3 linked regions of the Homo sapiens genome follow. The protein of the gene in region 2 interacts with the protein of the main gene of each other region in a pairwise test. Each region holds a gene or a part of one and is shown on either strand. Other genes may lie near its edges. The genes, in order: ATF7, FOSL2 and LHX8.

Region 1 (3,753 bases), on a different chromosome or scaffold from region 2:
TCCTAGCTACTCAGGAGGCGGAGGCAGGATAATCACTTGAGCCCAGGAGGCAGAGACTGCAGTGAGCCAAGATGGCGCCATTGCACTCCAGCCTGGGAGACAGAGGGAGACCCTGCCTCAGAAAAAAAAAAAAGTTTCCGAAACAGAATTTCATCTAATGTCAAAAAATCTGGCCAGGCACAGTAGCTCATGCGTGTAATCTCAGCACTTTGGGAGGCTAAGGCAGGAGGACTGTTTGAGCCCAGCAGTTCGAGACCAGCCTGGGAAACATGATGAGACCTCTACAAAAAATAAACAAAATTAGCCAGGCATGGTGGCATGAGCCTTTAGTCTCAGCTACTCAGGAGGCTGAGGTAGGAGGATGGCTTGAGCCTGGGAGACTGAAGCTGCAGTATGAGCCATGATTGTGCCACTGTACTCCAGTCTGGGCAACAGAGTAAGACCCTGTCTCAAAAAAAAACCATGGCCGAGCACGGTGGCTCACGCCTGTAATCCTAGCACTTTGGGAGGCCGAGGTAGGTGGATCACTTGAGGTCAGGAGTTCAAGACCAGCCTGGCCAACATGATGAAAACCCATATCTACTAAAAAAATACAAAAATTAGGCCGGGCGCGGTGGCTCACGCCTGTAATCCCAGCACTTTGGGAGGCCGAGGCGGGCGGATCACGAGGTCAGGAGATCGAGACCATCCTGGCTAAAACGGTGAAACCCCGTCTCTACTAAAAATACAAAAAATTAGCCGGGCGTAGTGGCGGGCGCCTGTAGTCCCAGCTACTTGGGAGGCTGAGGCAGGAGAATGGCGTGAACCCGGGAGGCGGAGCTTGCAGTGAGCCGAGATCCCGCCACTGCACTCCAGCCTGGGCGACAGAGCGAGACTCCGTCTCAAAAAAAAAAAAAAAAAAAAAAATACAAAAATTAGCCAGGTGTGGTGGCACATGCCTGTAATCCCAGCTACTTGGGAAGCTAAGGCCTGAGAATTGCTTGAACCTGGGCGGCAGAGGTTGCAGTAAGCCTGCCACTGCACTCTAGCCTGGGGAACACAGCGAGACTTCGTCTCAAAAAAAAAAAGAAAAAGAAAAAAACCACAACCAAAAGACAGTAACAAAATAACAACAAAAAATCCCTGCAACTATGAAGAAATATGGTTAATTTTCTATAATTATTTGAAAATGAAAAAAAAACAGGACTAGAAGTCTTGGAAATGGGAAAATTATAATTTTTTAAAATGTGGGGCAAGGGAGGTCGAGTACAGAAATCGTAGACTAGTGAAATATTATTTCTCAGAAAGATTCTAAATGAATTATTAAACAGATCACTTATGAACCACTGGCAAGTTATGCAGTGATCTATAAACAGTAGCATAAGATACCCAAACAGCAACTAATATGCAACTTCATTTTCTTTTTTGACAGGGTCACTAGCCTAGGAGTTCAGAGATGTCAGAGGCAGAATATACTGCATTTGGATTTCAACAAGATACCTCTTGCTATTTCATAGAAAATAAAGGTTAGATTATATAAAATGGCAGGTGGGATTCACAACTGAATTTTATCCAAAAGTTGACTAACAGGTTAATGTTAACATAATGATAGTCTACTCATGTTGTATAGCATTGTTCTACCCTTATACATGTTTACCAGTGACCTAAAACAAAAACACAGGTATCATGTTTATCAAATTTATCAATAATACAAACATATGAGAAATGGTCAAGAGGTGAAATGACATTATCAAGCTAAAACAACAAACCAAATTAACAAAATGATAATTACAGGGATAAATGTAAAGTTGTCAAAAAATCAACTACATGGCCGGCGCGGTGGCTCACGCCTGTAATCCTAGCACTTTGGGAGTTCAAGGTGGGTGGATCACTTAAAGTCAGGAGTTCGGGACCAGCCTAGCCAACATGGTGAAACCCCGTCTCTTCTAAAAATACAAAAAAAAAAAATTAGTTGGGTGTGGTGGTGCAGGCCTGTAATCCCAACTACTCTGGTGGCTGAGGCAGGAGAATCGCTTGAACCCGGGAGGCGGAGGTTGCAGTGAAACAAGATCGAGCCACTGTATTCCAGCCTGGGTGACAGAGCAAGACTCTGTCTCAAAAAAAAAAAAAAAAAAAAAATCAACTACACAAACTAATGTGATCTTAGGCTTTAAAAACAGAGGCATAGAGTGCAATAAAATAGAAGTTGTGATTCCCCCCGTAGTTTGTATTTATTAGATTATATCTGAGATGTTCAGACCTAGATGAGGAACCATAAACCACTCAGGTAACTAACTTGATGAAGAGCCTGATCTTTTATTTAAAATGTCACTTAAGAAATCGTACGGGCTGGGCTCAGTGGCTCATGCCTGTAATTCCAGCACTTTGGGAGGCCGAGGTAGGCGGATCACTTGAGGTCAAGAGTTCAAGACCAGCCTGGCCAAAATGGTGAAACCCCGTCTCTACTAAAAATACAAAAATTAGCTAGGCATGGATGGCGGGCACCTGTACTCCCAGCTACTCAGGAGGCTAAGGGACAAGAATCGCTTGAAACCGGAAGTTGGAGGTTGTAGTGAGCTGAGATCGCACCACTGCACTCCAGTCTGGGAAACACAGCAAGACTCCATCTCAAAAATAATAATAATAATAATAATAATAGAAATAGCTGGCCGGGCGTGGTGGCTCACACCTGTAATCCCAGCACTTTGAGAGGCCGAGGAGGGCAGATCACGTGGTCAGGATATTGAGACCATCCTGGCTAACACGGTGAAACTCCGTCTCTACTAAAAATACAAAAAATTAGTCAGGCATGGTGGCGGGCGCCTGCTAGTCCCAGCTACTCGGGAGGTTGAGGCAGGAGAATGGCGTGAACCTGGGAGGCGGGGCTTGCAGTGAGCTGAGATTGTGCCACTGCACTCCAGCCAGGGCAAAAGCGCGAGACTCTGCACTCCAGCCAGGGCAAAAGTGCGAAATTGCGTCTCAAAAAAAAAAAAAAAAATAGCTTAAAGAACTTGGGGTATTTACCCCAGAAGAGATGCCTCCTGTAATCCCAGCACTTTGAGAGACCAAGGTGGGGAGATGGCTTGAGCCTAGGAATTCCAGAAGAGCCTGGGCAATGCAGGGAGACCCAATCTCTACAAAAAATTTAAAAATTAGCCAGGCATGTTGGCATGCGCCTGTGGTCCCAGCTACTTGGAGGCTGGGAGGACTGCTTGAGGCCAAGAGTCCTAGTTACTCAGGAAGCTAGGACTAGAAGATAACTTTAGCCTAGGAGTTCGAGGTTACAATGATCTGTGATCACGTCACTTGCACTCTAGCCTGGGCAACATAGCGAGACCCTGTCTCTAAAAGAATGAAAGCGATAAGTGTCATGAAATACTTGAAGACTACCATGTTAACAAGGAACTAGATTTATTTATTGTGGCTTCAGATAACAGAGCTAAAGAGCTTCAGCACAATGTAAAAAATGTTCTAAAAGTAAAGCTCCAATAATGGAACAGGGTATCTGTGAAGTGGAGACTTTCTCCTTAGAGTATTCAAAAGTCAAAAGACCAACCGTCTTTTAACACATCATACCAACTCTGATGTGTTTTCACATATCATAAATTTATTTGATCCCTCCTAAAAAAACCTTAGGGGAAGGCAACATGTCAAAATGAGTAAATGTCAGAGAAGCTTAAAAATTATTTTCTTTGACATATTTTTAAAGAGACAGAAGACTTTTTCATGAACTCCAAAATCGTAGGACCATTTTCTGAGAAACCAACAACAAAA
Region 2 (3,753 bases):
GGGATTGGCAAGGTAATGCCACTTGAGACAAGTTTCTTGGCCTGTCCGCTCCTTGGTGTGGTGGTGGTTGGGTGGGGGACGAGGAGGAACTGGTGGATTTTTCTGTCATTGCTCCAAGTGTGAACAAAATTGTTCTGTGGTCCTAAGGACTGACCTCAGAGGCTTTTGTTCCTTCACAAGTCTATGCTATGACCTTGCCCGATCTTGGGCTCAAGGTAACTTTACTACATACCAGATAAAACCTGTAATCACTTTATTTCTCTCCGCTTCCTGTACTGGAAGACTTTCCTGGCAATTAGTGGATGGGCCTTTCTCTTTTATGGCATCTCAGTGGACCGATCCATATGAGACAGTTCTCTGGTTTTTCTCTGGGGAAGTGAATTTTATTTTTTTCAGCTCTCTCTTTTGGGGGTCCAATATTCCTGATTAGTTTGTTGCCAGTTCTTCAACCCAGAGCTTTCCCGTCCTCTCTAGCTTCATGAAGCTGGATCTTAATACATGGCCATGAGCTCCAGTGACTTTGGGGGTGGGGGGAGCAGACTAGTCTTTGTTACAGCCTCTGTTCTTATATATGGCAGGAACTTGAGGCATGAAAAATATTTCCTGTTCCAGTTATAGTTTTAATCTCAAAGGTTGGTCATTGGTGATTTTGTTTTGTCAGTAACCGTTGCACACACCTCCCCTTCTTGGATTTTTCTTTTTGCTGTTGTTTTTTCTCTCCTAACTTTCCTAGGAAAACATCTCCCAGATATATGCCCTGCCTGGCTGCTTGACTATTACGGTTTCAGGGCCTGAGCATTACGCAATCCAGCCAGTTACACAAACATAGGTCATTTCATAACTTGTTTTCATCAGCTGGGCCCCCTTTTAATGAAAAAACAAAACAAAAACAAGACCTAGAACTTTTCCAAGGCTGCTATTTGTTTCTCAGATAACTTGTGAAAATAAATCAAGGGCAGTATTTCCTTTTTGGAGTTAAGGAATACCAGACTAGCACTCTTCTTCCTCAACCACCCCTTCCCAAGACACACACACACACACACACACACACACACACACACACACACACACACAAAATTCCCCAGAGTGAACTTTTGCCAACTGTACCAGACTGGGACATTCCTCACATCAAAGAACTTTTACCAGAAATGACTGTGATTCCCAAGCTAGCCTCAATCATACCTCTCTAGTGCCCTCTACGGGAAATTTTTAGGAAAACTATCTTGGGAATGTATTTTTCCAGTCCCAGAGAGTGTTAAATTGGTGAGTTTGGAATTCTTAGGATGCTTTTTCTTTTTAATGAGGGACAAATAAATGCCACATATTTAACCGTGGTTAACTAGGAACTGCTTGACTTTGAGTTTCTTTTTTGTTTTCTTCTAAATAAAACCTGGTTAAAAAAGGAGTGCTTTTTCGTTGTGCACAAGTACCCTAGAACTTAAAGTATAATAAAAAATAAAAATAAAAAAAGGAGTGCTTTTTTCTTTTCCTATTTTGATGTCTGTCTATTCATTAGGTTGCCTTCACAGTTTGTTCAAATTCCCAAGGCATGTTTTCCTATGTGCTTATATTAGGAGGGGGCTTGTTCAGTTGGTGGGAATGTGGGAGGCATAGATTAAGGGTCTGGGTGCTTTTTTTTTTCCCCTTGATGTTACAGATGTTGTAGATTAGGATCAAACAAAATGTTATCCCAAGAATTTGTCTGTTCCGCTGATTCTTGATGGTGGAAGTCAGCTTCACTTTTTCATCAAAGGGAATGGGGTGAAATAGCAGTCATGTATTGTCTGAAAGGCATTTGAATTTTCCTATCCAAAACGCTGAGTGCATTTCCACTACCCATTTCTGCTTCTGCCTGTCTTATTATTCAAGGTGAGGGTAAAATTGGGAGACTTGTTTTTTCTTCTCTATCTTAATACAAACACAGCAGAACTTATTCATCCTTGTCACTGTCATCCCCTTCCTTGTTTTTTCCTTGGGGAGACTAAATGCTTATCTGAATGCTGCGGCTATGCTTAGACTCAGAAAGGTTTTGCAGTACCCCCTCTTTTGCAGTTGCTTTCAGCGTATTCTTTTGAAAATCCTCCCTACTAACAAATCTTTGTCCTTTGAAGGGTGAATTTGATATTTGGAAATTACCAAAAGCCTCTTTGGAGCCGAGTCTGACATACAAGTCTGGATGATCAGGCTGAGGCCAAAGTAGGGTGTGACCCTGTGTCCTGCAGGCCTCTAGAGTCTACCTGGGAGAGCATGCCCACGACAAAGGACACCAAAGCAGGCACCTTTGCCGTCAATAACTTGGATTTTTTTTCTCATTTGTTAGATAGGAATAAAGATACTGGTTGTGAGAATTAAGGAGACGAACGTTCCGGTCTATTTGTTGAAACAAAGAAAAAAATAGCATCATTACTTTGTGGATATGTCTCATCTATGTTGTATGTGGTGTCTTTTGGTGGCCACAGTATTTCAAAATGACAGCAGCTGCCCTGATTGAGGCAAATATATCTGTTCCAAACCCCATCTGGTAATTCTATCCCTTCTCCACTCCCTGGGCCAGAGAGGGAAGGTATAAGATTTCTCCTGGCCCACCTGGTCTCTCGGCCCTGTCCCGTGGCAGTGAGACTTTCCTAGGCTCACCTTCCGGTGGCTTTAATGGAGGATGAGAGGACGTGTCATTCCCATGGAGTACAGAGCCGCCAGGGAGCTGTGGGGGCTCCAAAGGGGCCCACACACTAGTGGAGTGAATTCCCCAGTGCTTTGGAGTGGCGCTTCTGGCCAAAAGGGCCCTGGCAGGGAAGCAGCTGGGGAGCCTGGACGAGGGCTAAGGCCTTCTCTTTCTGTTTCTTTCCTTCCCTGCTTCTCTTCCCCCTGGCAGGCAGCCAGGTGGAGGAGGATAGAGTAAGTCTTTCAAGGGAACCCAGGAAAGCGTGGAGGCTGAAGGGAGGCGAGTCACCTAAGACAGCATTTATAAACTGTAACGCTTTGGGAAATCACAACTTATTAGCAACAGTTTCCATTGTGACATAGTGGTATTTCTTCAGAGAGGAATGAAATGTCAGAGGTCAAAGTGATGTTCAACGCAGAACCTGTGAAGAATGGTTAAATTCCTTATGGAAGGCTTTGGGGAACATCCCAGGTTCAGTAAAAATACAGAGTATTTGCGTTAAACTGGACCTCAGTGGGGATGTGATGGGAGGTATGAGACAGATTGTGCCCTTATCCTTTTCTCTTCTTGGGAGCCAATCTTCTAGGATGTTGGAATTGTCCCTTTTCCATCCTGGGAATCTAAAGAAAGGGTTCTTAAAGGGAAAGAACCCAGTCCCTTCCTAGATACACTCAATCATACCTGCTTGCCTGGCAAGGCAGTTTACAGAGTCCACAGGGCTTCATGGCTTGAATGCTTGATAACCCAGACAAAAATCTATCTGATGGAGAATCGCCTGGCCAAGGGGCTGGGCCAAGAACCCCAACCCTGACTTCCATCTCACATACCAGTTCTGCCCACTCACGAGTCTCTGGGATAAGCCCTCGGCCCCATCCGGTCCTGTAGGGGCCCAAACCCTAGTTCCAATACCTGTCAGCAAAAAGCCATGGGTTCATAGCTGAAGCCAAGGCTCCAGTATAGAGTCTCAGGAGGCAGTTTTCCCAAATCAGCAACTGTTGTGGGGGGAACTTCTCTGACCTGCTGAGGTTTGGTGGCCCTAGAGGGTCCGTGTTTTCGGCCGTCTTTCTCATTGGCAGTGGAAGGAGCACACG
Region 3 (3,753 bases), on a different chromosome or scaffold from region 2:
CAAGTTTGCAGAAAATGTCTTTGTCTTTAATATAACAGCTGGTGTGCCTTCCTAGGGAGGTTCTGCAAACACTGCAGGAGAGACACCGGACATGCCAGCATAGGTCATTCACCTGTGAAGGGAAGAGAAGCCATTGTAATATCATATTTAAGAAAAGTATTCATTGGTTTTGTGTATTGGGCAATTTAAAAAACTGGCCCCTTAATATATTAACACATGCTCTGAATGTTTTCATCCAAAAGATGTCATTTTTTTTTAAGATGTCATTTTTGTAAACATGTATCTGGATATATTATCTTTTAGACCTCAACCAAAAATTTATACTAATATATGCCACATTTTGTGTTTATAATATTTTCTATTCCTTTGAAGAATTCAGGTTGCTTTTTCTTTCTTTCTTAAATGGAATCTTTATGAACACAGGGAATAGTTTGGTTACTTTAAAGTCCTACATACAGGTTTTTTTTGTTATATTTTACCAAGTTCTTCCCAGCATGAAACCTTGTGGTTAAAGAAGACAAAACACATACTCTCTCAACCTATTTTTTGGCTAAACAATTATAAACTGTATACCTCCTAAACAGAGCAATAAAGAAAGTGAAAATGCAGGTTTATAAGATAGTTACCTATACAGGACAGAAATTGCTCAGATAAATTTAAATGTTGATGTAGCAGAAGCCCGGGTTCTCTTCTAATATTAAACAGCTGAACAGAAACAATAGAAATAAGTAGAAAAGTATATTGGTAAAACTGCTTACTGATTTGGCTACAGGAGAAAAAAATAAATCTAATCATAAGTGGTTCTAAAAAAGCACTCAAGCACTGTTTTCCACTTACACTTCAAGTAGTAAAACATAAGATGGTGTTTAATAAGGCCAGTATTTTATACTTTCTAAATAGGAACATGAAATATTGTCAATCCAGGGAACAAGTCATAATTACTCTTACTTTAAACTGTTGCCATTATATTACAAGCGCTACAACTTTAGCCCTGGAGTATGAAGATGTGTATTAGATAGAACTGGCTTGCATGCAATGCAGGCTCCCAAAGTTTGCTCTTGTTAAGTGGACACAAGAACCTGATTTATGCTTAATTGAATTTCATGTAAAAGAACAGTAACATACAAAAACACCAATTACACCCTAAAAATGGATCCAATGACTAAAATAGGAAAGTAAATGACTGTGAGATATGGCTTTTGCTCAACTATTCCATAATAAAGACTATGTGTCTATCGAATTAGAACTACGGTCCAACATGTTTTTCTGCAATATATAAAAGGTACTTCGAAGCTGAAAGTTTTACTGACTTCTAATTACAGTTATGTGTCTCTTTCCAAAGCATTAATGAGAGTCTCATTTTGATGACATTCAAAAAGTTTTGGTCTTTACAAGAACTTAGAACTTACATGCTCACTATAGACAATATTTAAAATAATGAAAACAGAAAGAAATCTGAGGAAATCTGAATAAATAATATTAACAATGTTAAATACTGCCTTGGAAATAAAAAAAGCATTTTCCTTATATTTTTTTCCTAAAATGGGACCAACCAGTATAAAGTTTAGATGAACAGGCTTCCTTTAAAATTCCACTGTTTAGGGCCTTCTGTATTTCAATCTTACCCAGGATTTTGTTTTGTTTTGTTTTTAAAGCTAGGCTTTAGGGGAAGAGCCATGGCCTCTCTCTTACTCCCTCCTAAAGCCAGACCTGGTTGTCACGTTTTTTCAAAGTTCACTTCCCTCCTAAAATGTCTGTTTATCTTCCATTTCTTTGCCAGGGAGTAAAGTAAGGTGAAGAGAGGAGATTCTGGAGACTATAAACCTACTATTAATCTAATCTGTGTATGTCTAAACATACAACTTGGACCAAGCCAGAAAAACTACCCGAAGGACAGAGCACTGAAGTTATTGGACAAGGTAATCAATGCATCTAACTCCTGTCATACTTTTCTAACTCCATTTTATTTGCCTCACAAGATAGTGTTTTTCTATATTAGTTACACCCTAAAATAATATTTCTATACTAGGTCTAACTTTTTTTTTTAAATCAGTGACTCAAGTTAAACTCAAACTTTTCTGCAGGAAGTACTCAAAACGGAAAATAAAGGTTAATAATTCAGTTTTTGTCAATCATATAGTATCAAACTTTAGTTAGAAATTACACACTAAAGAATACAAGAAGTGGTACAATAATACTGTACATGGAAGGCTTCATTGGGAGGACTCCTGCCCTATTACAAAGGAAAGCTTTATGTAACTCACTTAACTTAGATTTTTATGCAATACAAAGATATATAATATATAAATGTATACAAGATTAACACTAGAAACTATTATCTATTTCAGAGGTTGTGTTAAATGTCACTTCATCATAACCCTTCTATATCTTCTCTGCTGTGAAGTGTTAGAGCCTTCATAGGTCTACTCAGAAACATTCTTAAAGATTACGGTAATTATTGAGAGGGCTCATTAAAAATAGGATGCTAGTTTTAACCCAAAAGATGATTTTGCAATATCCAAAATGCTCAGTTTTAGAAACATTGAAAGTGGAATCTTAAGAATGCAGATTTAAAGAGAAAGCCAATGTTAATTTGCCAGCTTTAAGAATCAACCACCAAGTAAGATTAATTTAGTCATTTTTAAATCTTTTTACCAAAACTTCTTCTGGCATTTTCTCTAGGTTTTATCTATAGGGTAGCATTCCCATTTTACAGATGAAGAAGCTTTGTATGTTGAGGTAGAAACTTAAAGAAACCCACTAACACGAATTTTGAACACATACTCTCCATAATTAATCCTTTTGAAAACCTAAGCAGGGTGGGGAGAGAATAGAAAGTGAACTGGTTTGCTACTAATTCAGTGTAGGAGAGACCATTATTTTAAATAGTGGTTTTAAAAAGCTATTTAAGTTGAAACCCCATGATATTCTGATTAAGACACATGGGACCATGATCTGCACTGAGGTGGATAACTGTGGCCTGCCAAAATTTCTACTCCAAAATTCCCCCACAATATTTTAAGAGAAAAGTAAAACAAATTAAGACAATCAACTCTCAAACCACACTTGAAACACTTCTTCCCAGGCTGTGTGTGTCTAACTTTATATCAATTTCCATTTTCTCCCCAAGCACTCAAGATGATGTAACAACAGCATTGAGTGGCCTAGAAGTATTAAACCTTAATAAGAGCAGGAATATATTGAAATGGTTTTTATTTAAATGGACCTATAAACTTTAACTTTGGAAAAGCCTCAGGTAACTGTAAAAAAACATAGGACTGTATTTTTAAAATTTGTCCAGAAAAGATCCTTTAAGCTACTTTACAGTGGCTTTCACCAAAAGAGACACTGCAAAAGGGAATCAGTTAATACATACCAACTTAAAATTCTTCTAAGCAGTCATGGGCGTGGGCGTCACTGGGGTGGAGAGACCACAGTCCGTTTAGAGGGAACAAAGATGTTTAAGAAAGGAATAATTCGGGGCTGGGTGAAAAATAACTAAGCAGGTTTCTGTCTCAGAATGGATAAGGGTTTTTCCACTTCCCTTCCACTACAAGCCAGTGGCTGACTCCAGCGCATCCACACACATCCGGCGCGTCCAGACCAGGATGTGTCACACATTAGCTGTTTTGCAACGACATAGAAGAGTCTGGGATTTCTTCTCACTTTATCCCACCGCATGAGTTGCCCTAAACTGGGCTGATTTTCTGCAAAAGCCTACAACCTTCACCCAGAACTTGAACGGAAAGGTTG

What was found.
Region 1: the proteins of FOSL2 (region 2) and ATF7 interact in binary tests that used the Homo sapiens proteins (3 or more experiments, as listed by UniProt).
Region 3: the proteins of FOSL2 (region 2) and LHX8 interact in binary tests that used the Homo sapiens proteins (3 or more experiments, as listed by UniProt).

The regions. Positions count from the first base shown.
Region 1 is NC_000012.12:53,619,693-53,623,445, forward strand, and holds part of ATF7 (cyclic AMP-dependent transcription factor ATF-7), read right to left. Parts: intron 1-3,753. UniProt on the Homo sapiens protein: Stress-responsive chromatin regulator that plays a role in various biological processes including innate immunological memory, adipocyte differentiation or telomerase regulation.
Region 2 is NC_000002.12:28,395,765-28,399,517, forward strand, and holds part of FOSL2 (fos-related antigen 2), read left to right. Parts: exon of another isoform or gene 1-12; intron 13-3,753.
Region 3 is NC_000001.11:75,137,344-75,141,096, reverse strand, and holds part of LHX8 (LIM/homeobox protein Lhx8), read right to left. Parts: intron 113-3,753; coding exon 1-112. UniProt on the Homo sapiens protein: Transcription factor involved in differentiation of certain neurons and mesenchymal cells.